Homo sapiens: one gene and its partners. The protein of the gene in region 3 interacts with the protein of the main gene of each other region in a biochemical or structural test. Each region holds a gene or a part of one and is shown on either strand. Other genes may lie near its edges.

Region 1 (3,500 bases), on a different chromosome or scaffold from region 3:
TGGTCGGGGCTGCATGAGGGAATGAAGCAAGGGAAAGCGGAAAAGAATCAGGAGAGGCAAGGTGGGCTGGTGGCCTAAGGCCAGGCCCAGTGCCGTTCCTCTGGGAGGTGTTACTTTCAGCATCTGGAAAATGGGTAGGAGAGATCTGCTATAATTTGAATGTGTTCCCCAAAGTTCTTGTGTTAGAAACTTAGTCCCCAGTGCAAGTGTTTAGGGTGGGGCCAGTAAGGGATGTTAGGTCCTGAGGGCAGAGCCCTCATGAGTGTATGAGTTCATCAGTGCATTAATATTATCTCGGGAGTGGGTTAGCTATTGAGAGATTGGCTTTTTTGATGAAAACAAGTCTGGCCCCCTCACCCTCATGCTCTTTTGTCCTTCTGCCTCCTGTGCTAGGAAGATGCAGCACAAAGGTCCTTGCCAGATGCTGGCATCCTGTTCTTGGACTTCCAGTCTTCAGAATCGTGAGCCAAATAAACTTCTATTGATTATAAATTACCCAGTCTCAGGTACTCTGTTACAGCAACACAAAATAGACTAAGACAGGATCCCTGCTTGGTCCCCACCATGGGTGACTATGAGTATCAGAGGAGACAGTGTCTGTGGTGGGACCTAATAAACTACTAGAAGCTAAAATAACCCTCAGAGTCACCTGGTCCAGTTACCTGCCTCTAGGCAGGATGAGACTAAATCATCCGGGGAATGGCCCTGTGAGCCAAACATGGCCAAGCACAAAACTGCCTCCATGTTATTGCCAAGGGGGCTGAAGAGTGGAAAAAACACTGCAACCCTCCAGAGGTGACCTCATGGTCAGCAGGTGGCTCCATCAACAGTTCTCAAATGTAATTCCTGCATCTTGTTCAGTGCAGACTCTGGCCAGCAGCTCTGGGGGGCCCGAGCACCTGCATTTCTGACAAGCTCCCAGGGGGTGCCAGTGCTGCTGCTTGGGGGACCACGCTCTGAGTAGCCAGGGGCTCTGAGAGAGGTGGGTTAAACCCTGAGCTGGATGGCTTCCATGTTACCCAGCCAGAGAGCCAGGGGAGCCAGGAGCCTCTTCAGAGCCCAGTGGTTTTAACTCATCCAAGTATTTTCTGAGCTCCTGCCCTGTGCTAAGGACGGTGACTGTGTACCACCAGGGACGGGGGTGGCAGGGAGAAGGCTGAGAGCGTGAATAAGGAGGAGGCATCACAGATCACGCAGATGAGGTGGCGAGGCCAGAGGATAAACCAGATGAAGACGCTGACAGTCAGGGACAGCCCAAGTCCAAGAAGGCTGATGGAACAGGACAGGGCAGGACAGGGCATGAGTGTCCAGCCCAGCAGGGGCAAGAGCCCCAGAGGGCGGGAGCTCTGCTGCCGAGTGGGGGCCATCTCCCCACCCCAGCTTGGGGAGTTCTGCAGACAGGACCATCACCCCTTGATAAAAGCAGAAGAGATGCTTTACTAGCCCCCCATGTCCCTGTGCCTCAGCTCTCCTCCAGGAGAGGGCTGCCTAACACACAGTGCAGTATTAATACACACCTAAATGAAATTTCCAATCAAATGCACCCAGATGCACCAGTCATAGCCATTCATTAAATGCAAGCACTTTTGTAATGGCAAAAGCAACAAACAGACCCAGACTAGTGAGAAGATACTGGGCTTCCTTTTTTTTTTTTTTTTTTTTTTTTTGAGATGGAGTTTCACTCTTGTTGCCCAGGCTGGAGTGCAATGGTGCGATCTCGGCTCACTGCAACCTCTGCCTCTCAGGTTCAAGTGATTCTCCTGCCTCAGCCTCCCAAGTAGCTGGGATTACAGGCACCCGGCACCACGCCTGGCTAACTTTTTTGTATTTTTAGTAGAGACAGGGTTTCACCATGTTGGCCAGGCTGGTCTCAAACTCCTGACCTCAGGTGATCCACCTGCCCTTGGCCTCCCAAAGTGCTGGGATTACAGGCGTGAGCCACCGCGCTGGGCCAACACTGGGCTTCTTTAGGAGCAAACTGCATAATGGCCTAGGAAAGTGTGGGAGGCAGAAAATTCCAGATACCTTTCTCTAACTTCAATGACAACGGAAGCAGAAAAAGAGGGGTTTAGTAAGTGAAGGCTACGACAAAGCAGCCTGAAGACTGTGTGGTTTGTGTTGTATAGTTAGAAACCATAGTTACAACAAGCATTGCTTCTGTTCCTTAAACGCTAAAGAACAGTAGAGTTAATGGAGAAGAAAACATCTTCCAGGTGGAAAGACAGGCAGATGGTCCCCCACCAAGAAGGGCAGGGCAGACCAGGGAATGAACAAGAGCCTGGCGCTGGGGCTGGGGGCTGTCCTGCCTCCTTGGGCAACCAGTCCTGCTGGGGTGAGATGTGCACAGAAACAATACTGATTTTTTTTTTTGAGATGGAGTCTTGCTCTGTCTCCCAGGCTGGAGCGCAGTGGTGTGATCTTGGCTCACTGCAACCTCTGCCTCCCAGGTTTAAGTGATTCTCGTGCCTCAACCTCCCAAGTAGCTGGGATTACAGGCATGCACCACCACGCCCAGCTAATTTTTTTTTTGAGACAGAGTCTCGCTCTGTCGCCCAGGCTGGAGTACGGTGGCGTGATCTCAGCTCACTGCAGCCTCCGCCTCCCGGGTTCAAGTGATTCTCCTGCCTCAGCCTCCCGAGTAGCTGGGACTACAGGCGCCCACTGCCACACCCAGCTAATTTTTGTATTTTTAGTAGAGACGGGGTTTCACCATATTGGCCAGGCTGGTCTCGAATTCCTGACCTTGTGATCCACCTGCCTTGGCCTCCCAAACTGCTGGGATTATAGGCATGAGCCACCGCGCCCAGCTGCTAATTTTTGTATTTTTGGTAGAGACAGAGTTTGACCATGTTAGCCAGGCTGGTCGTGAACTCCTGACCTCAAGTGATTTGCCTGCCTCAGCCTCCCAAAGTGTTGGGATTACAGGCGTGAGCCACTGTGCCCAGCCATGGTACTGATTCTTAGTCTAAGAACCAGACTGAGGAAGACTTTGCCCAGGAAAAAGGGAGCGCATTTTAAGAGAGAAAGGTAATGAGTAACCTCCTTTCCGCCATCCTTTGTTGATTTGAGCACTTCATGTGTTGTATCTTGTACTCAGTTATTTTTCTTCATTAAGTTTCTGGAATGTGCTTGAAATATTTTTATCACCTTGACTTTCTATGGAGGACAGCTAAATTCCTTTTTTTATTTTGAGGTGGAGTCTTGCTCTGTCGCTCAGGTTGGAGTGCAGTGGTGCAATCTCGACTCACTGCAACCTCTGCCTCCCAGGTTCAAGTGATCCTCCAGCCTCAGCCTTCCGAGTAGCTGGGATTACAGGTGTGTGCCACCAAACCTGGCTATTTTTTGTATTTTTTAGTAGAGATGGGGTTTTGCCATGTTGGCCAGGCTGGTCTCGAACTCCTGATCTCAGGTGATCTGCCCCACCCTTGGCCTCCCAAAGTGCTGGGATTATAGGCGTGAGCCACCGTGCCGGACAGCTATATTTCTGTGATTTATATTTT
Region 2 (3,500 bases), on a different chromosome or scaffold from region 3:
GGTGACAGCGAGACTCCGTCTCAAAAAAAAAAAAAAAAAAAAAAGAGAGAAATGTTAAATAGCTGATGTTTTTTATTTAGTGAGTATAATTACGCAAGCTGTTTGTACCTTTTCATGTTCCTCAATTGTTCATTTTTTCAAACTGAGGACAGCTTCAAATATTTGGTATCAGCATGTTAATGATATCTGCTAAAACTGTATTTTTGCTGAAAAAATGTTTAATTAAATTTTGAACTAAACATCAAGACAGTAAAATAAATAGAACTGTGGGTGTTTTAATAAGGATTTACTTACGGATAGTATTTTTATCTTGTTTGATGTTTCTTTAAACCTCTGTAAATCCATGCTATCTCTGTGTCCTTTAATAGAAAAAAAGATGTTGCAATGAGAAATTTTTATTTTTCTTCACCGAAATAATGGCACTGCTTAAAGTTTATAAAAACAATAGGTTTATGCTGTTTTTCAAGTACACTTGATGGCTCTGCAGTCTCCTTTAGCTCTTTTGATAAATAAAATTGAAAATTGCCAAGAAGCTGGTGAAGGTTACAGTTTTTTTTGTTTTTTGTTTTTTTAAATTTGAGAACAAGTCTCGTTCTGTTGCCCAGGCTGGAGTGCAGTGGTGTGACCTTGGCTCACTTCAACCTCTGCCTCCCGGGTTCAAGCAATTCTCCTGCCTCAGCCTCCTGAGTAGCTGGGACTACAGGCACGTGCCACCATGCCTGACTAATTTTTGTATTTTTAGTAGAGACAGGGTTTCACCATGTTAGCCAGGCTGGTCTTGAACTCCTGAACTCAAGATCTGCCTGTCTTGGCCTCCCAAAGTGCTGGGATTACAGGCCTGAGCCACCGCACCTGGCCAAGATTATAGTTAAGTTTACAGTAACGTTAAAAGCCAAAGTCCTTATAAAACAAACCAACATGTGATATGAATAAATAGCTCGAAATTTAAAAGAAAAAAGGGGACCAAGCATTTTTACTATTAATAAAAAAAAAAGCATTACATATATACGGATAATCACTCAAAAAGGAATGATTTATTCTTATGCCTATAACTTAAACAAAAACAGAACAAAAATATTTTGGCAATAACACTTTAATGACCTTAATGAAAACTGTTCCACACATAGAGATTGTTCAGACAACATGTTAATAAGCCCATGTATAATCTCCACATTAAGACCAGTCTAGCAAGTTATTCAGGCACTGAACATGCTGATACTTACTGCTAGGCTATATGGAATTCACTCTAGATATACAGATATGTAACTTTTCCTATATAATATACATGTAGAGAAAATATATATGATATATACATACACCCCACTGGTAATACATTAACAAATAGGCTAAAATGCATTTTTAAAAATAAATTGGAAATTAGCCAGGTGTGGTGGCGTGTGCCTGTAATCTCAGCTACTCAGGAGGCTGAGGCAGGAGAATCACTTGAATCTGGGAGGCAGAGGTTGCAGCGAGCCGAGATTGTGCCACTGCACTCCCGCCTGGGCGACAGAGGGAGACTCCGTCTTTTAAAAAAAAAAAAAAAAGGGGGAATATATTTAACGTAGGAAAAGTTATATCTATGTATCTAGAGTGAATCCCATATAGCCTAGAAGTAATATCAACATGTTTAGTGCCTAGATAACTTCCTAGGCTGGCCTTAATGTGGCAATTTTCCATGGGCTTATTAACATACTGTCTGAATAATCTCTATGCATGAAAGTTTTCACTAAGGTCTTTAATGTGTTACTGCCAAAATAAACATTTTTTTTTGTTCTTATCTTATTTAAGCTATCATAGGTATAAGAATAAGTCATTCCTTTTTGAAATGTTCTCTGTGAATATATAAATAGGTACACCATAAGTACTAATTTTCCCAGTAGATTCCTAGATTTCCATTGTTGTTCTGATATAATTATTAATAGTGCACCCTTTCACTTTTAAAGTGTCTTGGTTTGGGTAAAAAAATTATATGGTCATCTATTTATAGGGCACTGTTCTTTTCCAGTTGATTCTAACCTCCCCTATGAGGTTCTCCAAGTACTTAAGAATCACTTAGGTTTTCAACAAGAGTTGATGAAACCCAATTGAAGATATTCAAATTCAAAAGACAGAACCTAAAATTCCATCAAAGAGGTTATGTGCCAATATAACTCTTATAGCCTAATTCAGTCTATTTCCCCTACTTCTGATTTTTTTTTTTTTTTCATTTCATTTCTAGAGACAGGGTCTCATTCTGTCACACAGGCTATGGTGCAGTTGTGTGATCACAGCCCACTGCAGCTTTCAGCTTCTGGGTGCAAGCAGTTCGCCTGCCTCAGCCTCCTGAGTAGCTGGGACTTCAGGCACATGCCACTGCGCCTGGCTACTTCCAAAAATTTTTTGTAGAGATGGGGTCTTGCTATGTTGCTCAGGCTGGTCCTCAACTCCTGGGCTCAAGCAATCCTCCCCACTCAGCCTCCCAAAGTACCAGAATCACAGGTGTCTGATTCTTTTTAAAAATTTTATAATTATACTCTATGAAAAGATAATGACTTGTAACAGTACATATTTCTATTATTTCTAAGGTGAAAAGTAAATAATATTGATATACAAATACGAATTTGCCAAACTTACCTACAAATGCTCCAAATTCTGTATTATCTCCTTCTGTAGCTTTAGAGCAAACAGTTTCTTGATCTTTGGTTCCAGTTTCCAAGTGGCTTTTGCAACTTGGCTGAGATGGTGTACTAACAAAAAATTTGGTTGGTGGGGATGACAGATGTGGTATGCTAGTAGATGAACTGCCTAATTTTTGATTTTTATTAAATATTTTTAAGAGTTCTACCCCATGTAGTCTCTGTCGCAGTTCTGGAGGGGAAACAGCACTTGGGAATAAGGCACCAGAAGAGGAACCAGCCTCTGGAAAATTAAATTCTTTTCTCTGGGGTACTGCAGGTAAGTCTTGACCAAATATATTACACTGGGGATCTTTGTCATCTTTCATTAAAATATTACAATGAAAAGGATTATTACTTTCAAGATCACCTTGAGGAAGAGAGGAGCTAAGTGTATTTACAACACCATGCTTTTTCCATACAGAAGGTCTTACAGGACCATCATCAATAAGGTTTTGAGCCAAGTGTTTGGAAATGCTCAGTTCTCGTGTGATTTCATTATGAACTTTGCTAGCTTCCGACGCTTTCTGGGCAGTGAGTGTTTTTAATGTATCTACCGTCAGGGCTGAAAGATCTTGCAAATGGCCAATTTGAGAATCTAATGATTGTAATGATCTTTTTATGTAGTTGACACGATCTCCAACTTCTTTAATCTGAATGCACATCTGTTCCACTCTGTAGGAGAGAAATAAGCTTTTTTTACAAATGTGAAAAAATAATGTAGAATTTTATTTTGTAGCCTCAAATAATAATGATAAAAAGAGAAAAATTTCACATGCATTTAAACAAGATATAAAATAAGGTACAGTTATTTAATTATACAAGGCCTACCTTATGTTTAAGAAG
Region 3 (2,226 bases):
CATCCACCCGGGACCACAGAAGAGGGGATGCTGGTGTGGGAGGACCCTGCGGCACTCTCGTCCTAACTCCTCTCTCTTCCTTTTCAGGGAGGAAGAGATAGTCGCTCTGGATCACCCATGGCTAGACGCTGAAAACCCACCTGGTTCCGGAATCCTGTCCTCAGCTTCTTAATATAACTGCCTTAAAACTTTAATCCCACTTGCCCCTGTTACCTAATTAGAGCAGATGACCCCTCCCCTAATGCCTGCGGAGTTGTGCACGTAGTAGGGTCAGGCCACGGCAGCCTACCGGCAATTTCCGGCCAACAGTTAAATGAGAACATGAAAACAGAAAACGGTTAAAACTGTCCCTTTCTGTGTGAAGATCACGTTCCTTCCCCCGCAATGTGCCCCCAGACGCACGTGGGTCTTCAGGGGGCCAGGTGCACAGACGTCCCTCCACGTTCACCCCTCCACCCTTGGACTTTCTTTTCGCCGTGGCTGCGGCACCCTTGCGCTTTTGCTGGTCACTGCCATGGAGGCACACAGCTGCAGAGACAGAGAGGACGTGGGCGGCAGAGAGGACTGTTGACATCCAAGCTTCCTTTGTTTTTTTTTCCTGTCCTTCTCTCACCTCCTAAAGTAGACTTCATTTTTCCTAACAGGATTAGACAGTCAAGGAGTGGCTTACTACATGTGGGAGCTTTTGGTATGTGACATGCGGGCTGGGCAGCTGTTAGAGTCCAACGTGGGGCAGCACAGAGAGGGGGCCACCTCCCCAGGCCGTGGCTGCCCACACACCCCAATTAGCTGAATTCGCGTGTGGCAGAGGGAGGAAAAGGAGGCAAACGTGGGCTGGGCAATGGCCTCACATAGGAAACAGGGTCTTCCTGGAGATTTGGTGATGGAGATGTCAAGCAGGTGGCCTCTGGACGTCACCGTTGCCCTGCATGGTGGCCCCAGAGCAGCCTCTATGAACAACCTCGTTTCCAAACCACAGCCCACAGCCGGAGAGTCCAGGAAGACTTGCGCACTCAGAGCAGAAGGGTAGGAGTCCTCTAGACAGCCTCGCAGCCGCGCCAGTCGCCCATAGACACTGGCTGTGACCGGGCGTGCTGGCAGCGGCAGTGCACAGTGGCCAGCACTAACCCTCCCTGAGAAGATAACCGGCTCATTCACTTCCTCCCAGAAGACGCGTGGTAGCGAGTAGGCACAGGCGTGCACCTGCTCCCGAATTACTCACCGAGACACACGGGCTGAGCAGACGGCCCCGTGGATGGAGACAAAGAGCTCTTCTGACCATATCCTTCTTAACACCCGCTGGCATCTCCTTTCGCGCCTCCCTCCCTAACCTACTGACCCACCTTTTGATTTTAGCGCACCTGTGATTGATAGGCCTTCCAAAGAGTCCCACGCTGGCATCACCCTCCCCGAGGACGGAGATGAGGAGTAGTCAGCGTGATGCCAAAACGCGTCTTCTTAATCCAATTCTAATTCTGAATGTTTCGTGTGGGCTTAATACCATGTCTATTAATATATAGCCTCGATGATGAGAGAGTTACAAAGAACAAAACTCCAGACACAAACCTCCAAATTTTTCAGCAGAAGCACTCTGCGTCGCTGAGCTGAGGTCGGCTCTGCGATCCATACGTGGCCGCACCCACACAGCACGTGCTGTGACGATGGCTGAACGGAAAGTGTACACTGTTCCTGAATATTGAAATAAAACAATAAACTTTTAATGGTATTTGCATGGGTGTCTTCTTTTGTGTTCCGGGCTGTAGCACACAGGCCCACATCAAGCGAGAGCCAGGTGTGCAGAGCAAATGTGACTCGGTGCCTCTGGGTCTCCAGGCAGGGCTGCCTGGCGGTGCCTGTTGGAGGGGGCATCCTCATCAGAGGGTCGATGGCTACTGAAGAAAGTGGAACAGAGGTAGTTGTTAGGGCACTGATTCTCTCACCAGGAAAAAAATATTTAGTGTCTCTGAAGACAAGCTTCCAAGTCTGTCTGTGTTCTGCTGTGTGGCTAGTGTACACACCCTGCAGATGTGAACCCAGGAGTCTTGGACGTGTTCCCCTTGCCACCTTTTTCTCTGAAAGCATGAAAGAGCGTGAAGCAATGTTTTACTTATAGTTACCTTTGGTTACAAGAATTTTTCTTCAAAAAGATAGACGAAAGTCTCTTTTGTTTTTTCTTTTTCTTTTGAGACAGGATCTTACTTTGCCACCCAGGTTGGAGTGCAGTGC
Region 4 (4,054 bases), on a different chromosome or scaffold from region 3:
ATTCCTAATTTTTAATAATATCTACATTAATAAATATAACATTAAATATTTTTTGAGAGACAGGGTCTCACTTTGTTGCCCAAGCTGGAGTGCAGTGGCATGATCATAGTTCACTGCAGCCACAACCTCCTGGGCTCAAGCAGTCTTCCCACCTCAGCCTCCTGGGACTATAGGCACTTTGCCGGCATGCCTGGCTAATTTCTTATTTTTCTGTATGTAGAGATGGGGTCTCACTATATTGCCCAGGCTGAACTCAAACTCCTAGGGTCAAGTGATCCTCCCACCTCAGTCTCCCAAAGTGCTGTGTGAGCCACTATGTCCAGCTAAATGTAACATTATTAAATGTAAATACGACAGCATCAGTTCTACCAGAATGGTGCTTTAAGTACAGCAAAATTCCAAACTCTGAAATTTTCACTTTTTCTTGAACAAATTTTGATGCATCTTTGTTCTTATACAAATTTCTGACATACTACATATGAAAAATGATCCACTCTCAATGGGTATTATACATTTTATTTAAAGACTTCAAAGTAAAAAAAAAAAAAAAAGGTACAGAAATAGATTACATTATGATGACCACAGTAGTATTCTACATGACAAAAATAAAAACAGATTTAAGTAAATGTACCGGCACTGAACAAGCATTTACTTAACATCCAATCCAGGCTGCATATGCACAAAATGATCTGACCACATGCTTATGCAAAATAAAGTTTTTCTTAGAAAGCCAAAATTCCAACCATTCTGACTGTCCGCTGCCTATTCCCCTGTTGAGTATTTTGAGCGAACTTCTATAGAATATAAGAACAATTGGCATGGCACTTAAAGACTGCAAAAAACAGAACACAATTAAAAACATTTATAATGCATTTCTGTATAAAATACACACCGTAAATCTTATTAGTTAAAAAAAGATTTAAAAACAAAAGACCACCCTGAATAATGGTTAAAACCTCATCATAGAAAAATGCTCATCATTTTGTACACTGAAAGAAACTACTGAGAGGTTTTTTGGGGGGCTGGTGGGAAGGTAGATACCTAACTTAAAGATTCATTCAAAATTTGCTTTAAATTGTGGGTAATAACTCACTGCTTACCCCTTCTCAAAATGTTTTATCATGAATACTCTAATATTTAACCACAGGACAAACATAAAGAATAACCTGAAGAAGGTATTTCTCAAAGTGAGGTCGAAGGCCCCAAAAGAAGTCTAAGGTGGGCTCACTAGTGTGCATTTTAAACCAACTTCCTAGGTGATTATTTCACATTCCAAAATCTGAGAACTAATGCCCTATGGGAAACAGCACCACTTAAAAGCAAGGCCATAAACATATTTCTGACATGAGATACAGAATTCTAAGTTTATGATTTGAAGTGAATACTGCTTTTTGTTTTAAAACAAGTTTCAGGTGTTAAGAGAAACATATTAAATAAACATGTGGATGTATATAAACATTTTCCTTTGACGTTTTCATTGCTTTCAGACTTATGTTATTTGAAGGAAAGAGAGTATATAGCTAGAAACTTTGGAAAAATGACATTTCCAATGAAATGCAGCATCCACCCCTCCAAAAAAAGATAATTTATTAAATGCCTACAAATTTTAAAACATTTGAAATTTAAACTAGATAACTTTCCTAAAATTTTTACTAAGATTAAAAAATTTTAAGTAATTTAGATAATCATGTTTACTTTTTAAGTCCCTTTTCATTAAAAATATATTTAAAATAAACAACAGAAGGATGCTATATTTGGCACCCCTTTAAATAATAAGCTGCTGAACACTAATATCCATAAAAAATAATCCGAGGAACTCTGCCTCTGAAATGTATTCTACTATGTATTACATGTGTTATCTAGTTAATAAAAACTCACTGAAAGAGCTGATACTGTGATGTGTGTGAGTGTATGTGTGTGTCCTGAACATTTATTCATGCCTACTTTATTTTTCTGATTTCACTAAAGGGTCCAATCATATAGATAATGTGGTTTAGGGGAAGAAATGAGCATAATTAAGATACCCTACTTAAAAAATAAATACTTTTCCTGTATGCTAAATTATAAGGAAAAAATATTATACATTCTGCCTCCACTGAATACATGGAATGCTTTTACAAGTTTGGTAACAATAATGAGTGCCTCATTTGAATCAAGTCACAAAAAGCAACTGTGGGGATTCACTCTCCAATAGGAAATAAAAATATTACCAGTGTACTTTTCTGTATCTATTTTAAATTTCTGGTTTTTTTCCTTTCTATACACTGAGTAATTTTCCATTCAACTGCATCCTTGGTCTTTTGCAGTGTATATATTAACACTGCAGTTAAAGTTTCCAATAAAGGGAAAGGCTCAGGAGCTACCCTGTTAATATACTTAAAAAGAAAAACCACTTGTGCCAGTTTTGCAAAAATAGTTAATGATTTGGAATCTGATTCATAATAAAAAGTGTCTTTTTTAACTCAAGAAGAATTTCCCAATTTGGTTTTTGTTTGAGACCGAGTCTCACTCACTGTTGCCCAGGCTAATCTTGGCTCACTGCCAACTCCATCTCCTGGGTTCAAGCGATTCTCCTGTTTCAGCCTCCCGAGTAGCTGGGATTACAGGTATGTGCCACCATGCCCAGCTAATTTTTGTATTTTTAGTAGAGACAGGATTTCACCATGTTGACCAGGCCAATCTCAAACTCCTGACCTCAAGTGATCTGCCCGCCTCAACCTCCCAAAGTACTGGGATCACAGGCATTGAGTCACTGCACCCAGCCGAATTTCCCAATTCTAAGCAAGCAGCATCTTCTATTACCAATTTAATAACTGCTGCCTTAAAAAAGATCAATAATTTATTTATCCAAGGCAATAAAATTTACACCTGAATTTTTAAACATAAAGAACTCCAAAACTAATAGGTAATATAAAAAGTTGTTGCATTTTATATTAATCTTTTATTTCAAAATTAAACCCTGAAATGATTTAACACAGAATGACAAAAATTATGGGAGGTTTATGATGTAATCCCACTATGTGCCTTAATGCAACAGATACTTTTTTAATGCAGTGTTTTTTTTTTTTTTAAACAAAAAAGATAACTTCATTACTCATCTGTAGGCCTTTTAAAAACTGAAAAACCAGTTCAACTAAATTTTGACATGATTGTCTGGAAGCTAGTAGTATTAATTTTTTTTTCATAGTAAAACAGATGTAATAATTGATTCATATAGTCTACAAGAGAAGATATTGGGTGTTTTTTTGTAGGTGGCAAATATAAAATGGTTAATTGTATCCAGGCTTGCAGCAAGTTTATCCATGCATTAAATGGCAACATGAGTAGAATACATGGTTGAAAAATGAGGATCAGACACATTCTTCTGCAGACATCAAAAGAGGATTGATATACTCAAAACCTTCAAATTCAGACTGATCAATCTTCCTCACAATGTCACTGTTGAAAGAAAAATAAATTTATTTTCATCATAATCAAGATTTCTTCAACCTTTAAATGGTAAAATAAGATTAAAAATCAAGTAATTAGGCTAATTGTACTGAAAGGAAATCTATAAATTTTTAGATTAATCCCCCAGATTTTCTAGACGAATCAAGAATGGAGTACTGAAAATTTAAAAAACCCCGATAATCCCACAAGCAAGTTTAGAGCCAAAAAGGAGTTCAAAACTGAGGACTGCGAATAAAAAAGACACCAGTTGTCACCATTCCAGTTAATCTTAACTTTTGACCAGAACAACATTCCTAGTTACAGGTGAACATCCAGGTTTGAATTAGCATTCAATTTAGTAGTCACCTCAACAGCCAGATGTTAGATAGTGTAGCCCAGAAGAAGTTAGCCAAAAGGAAAAGGCAATAGGAACAAGTACACTGAGAGACCTGGAATGAGGAGAGAACACCGCAGGGAGATCATGGGTCACAGAGAGGGGAGAGGTTGGCATTTTGTTACACTGGGCTTCTACTTTAATATACAGTGAGTAGTGCTATCAAATATTTAATACATAAATGTATTATGCCATACTAAGAAGCACAAAGTTACAGAGGATACAGTCCCT

The links. Proteins that work in one complex are often made in the same cells at the same time.
Region 1: of the proteins of MBP (region 3) and HIPK2, one has a biochemical effect on the other in vitro, tested with the Homo sapiens proteins (one study listed by BioGRID).
Region 2: of the proteins of MBP (region 3) and TRPM7, one has a biochemical effect on the other in vitro, tested with the Homo sapiens proteins (one study listed by BioGRID).
Region 4: of the proteins of MBP (region 3) and PRKCI, one has a biochemical effect on the other in vitro, tested with the Homo sapiens proteins (one study listed by BioGRID).

The regions. Positions count from the first base shown.
Region 1 is NC_000007.14:139,575,499-139,578,998, forward strand, and holds part of HIPK2 (homeodomain-interacting protein kinase 2), read right to left. Parts: intron 1-3,500.
Region 2 is NC_000015.10:50,589,298-50,592,797, forward strand, and holds part of TRPM7 (transient receptor potential cation channel subfamily M member 7), read right to left. Parts: intron 3,330-3,500; coding exon 2,614-3,329; intron 360-2,613; coding exon 295-359; intron 1-294. UniProt on the Homo sapiens protein: Bifunctional protein that combines an ion channel with an intrinsic kinase domain, enabling it to modulate cellular functions either by conducting ions through the pore or by phosphorylating downstream proteins via its kinase domain.
Region 3 is NC_000018.10:76,978,333-76,980,558, reverse strand, and holds the end of MBP (Golli-MBP), read left to right. Parts: exon of another isoform or gene 1-87; coding exon 88-132; 3' UTR 133-1,726; downstream 1,727-2,226. UniProt on the Homo sapiens protein: The classic group of MBP isoforms (isoform 4-isoform 14) are with PLP the most abundant protein components of the myelin membrane in the CNS. They have a role in both its formation and stabilization.
Region 4 is NC_000003.12:170,302,424-170,306,477, reverse strand, and holds the end of PRKCI (protein kinase C iota type), read right to left. Parts: intron 3,439-4,054; coding exon 3,351-3,438; 3' UTR 501-3,350; downstream 1-500.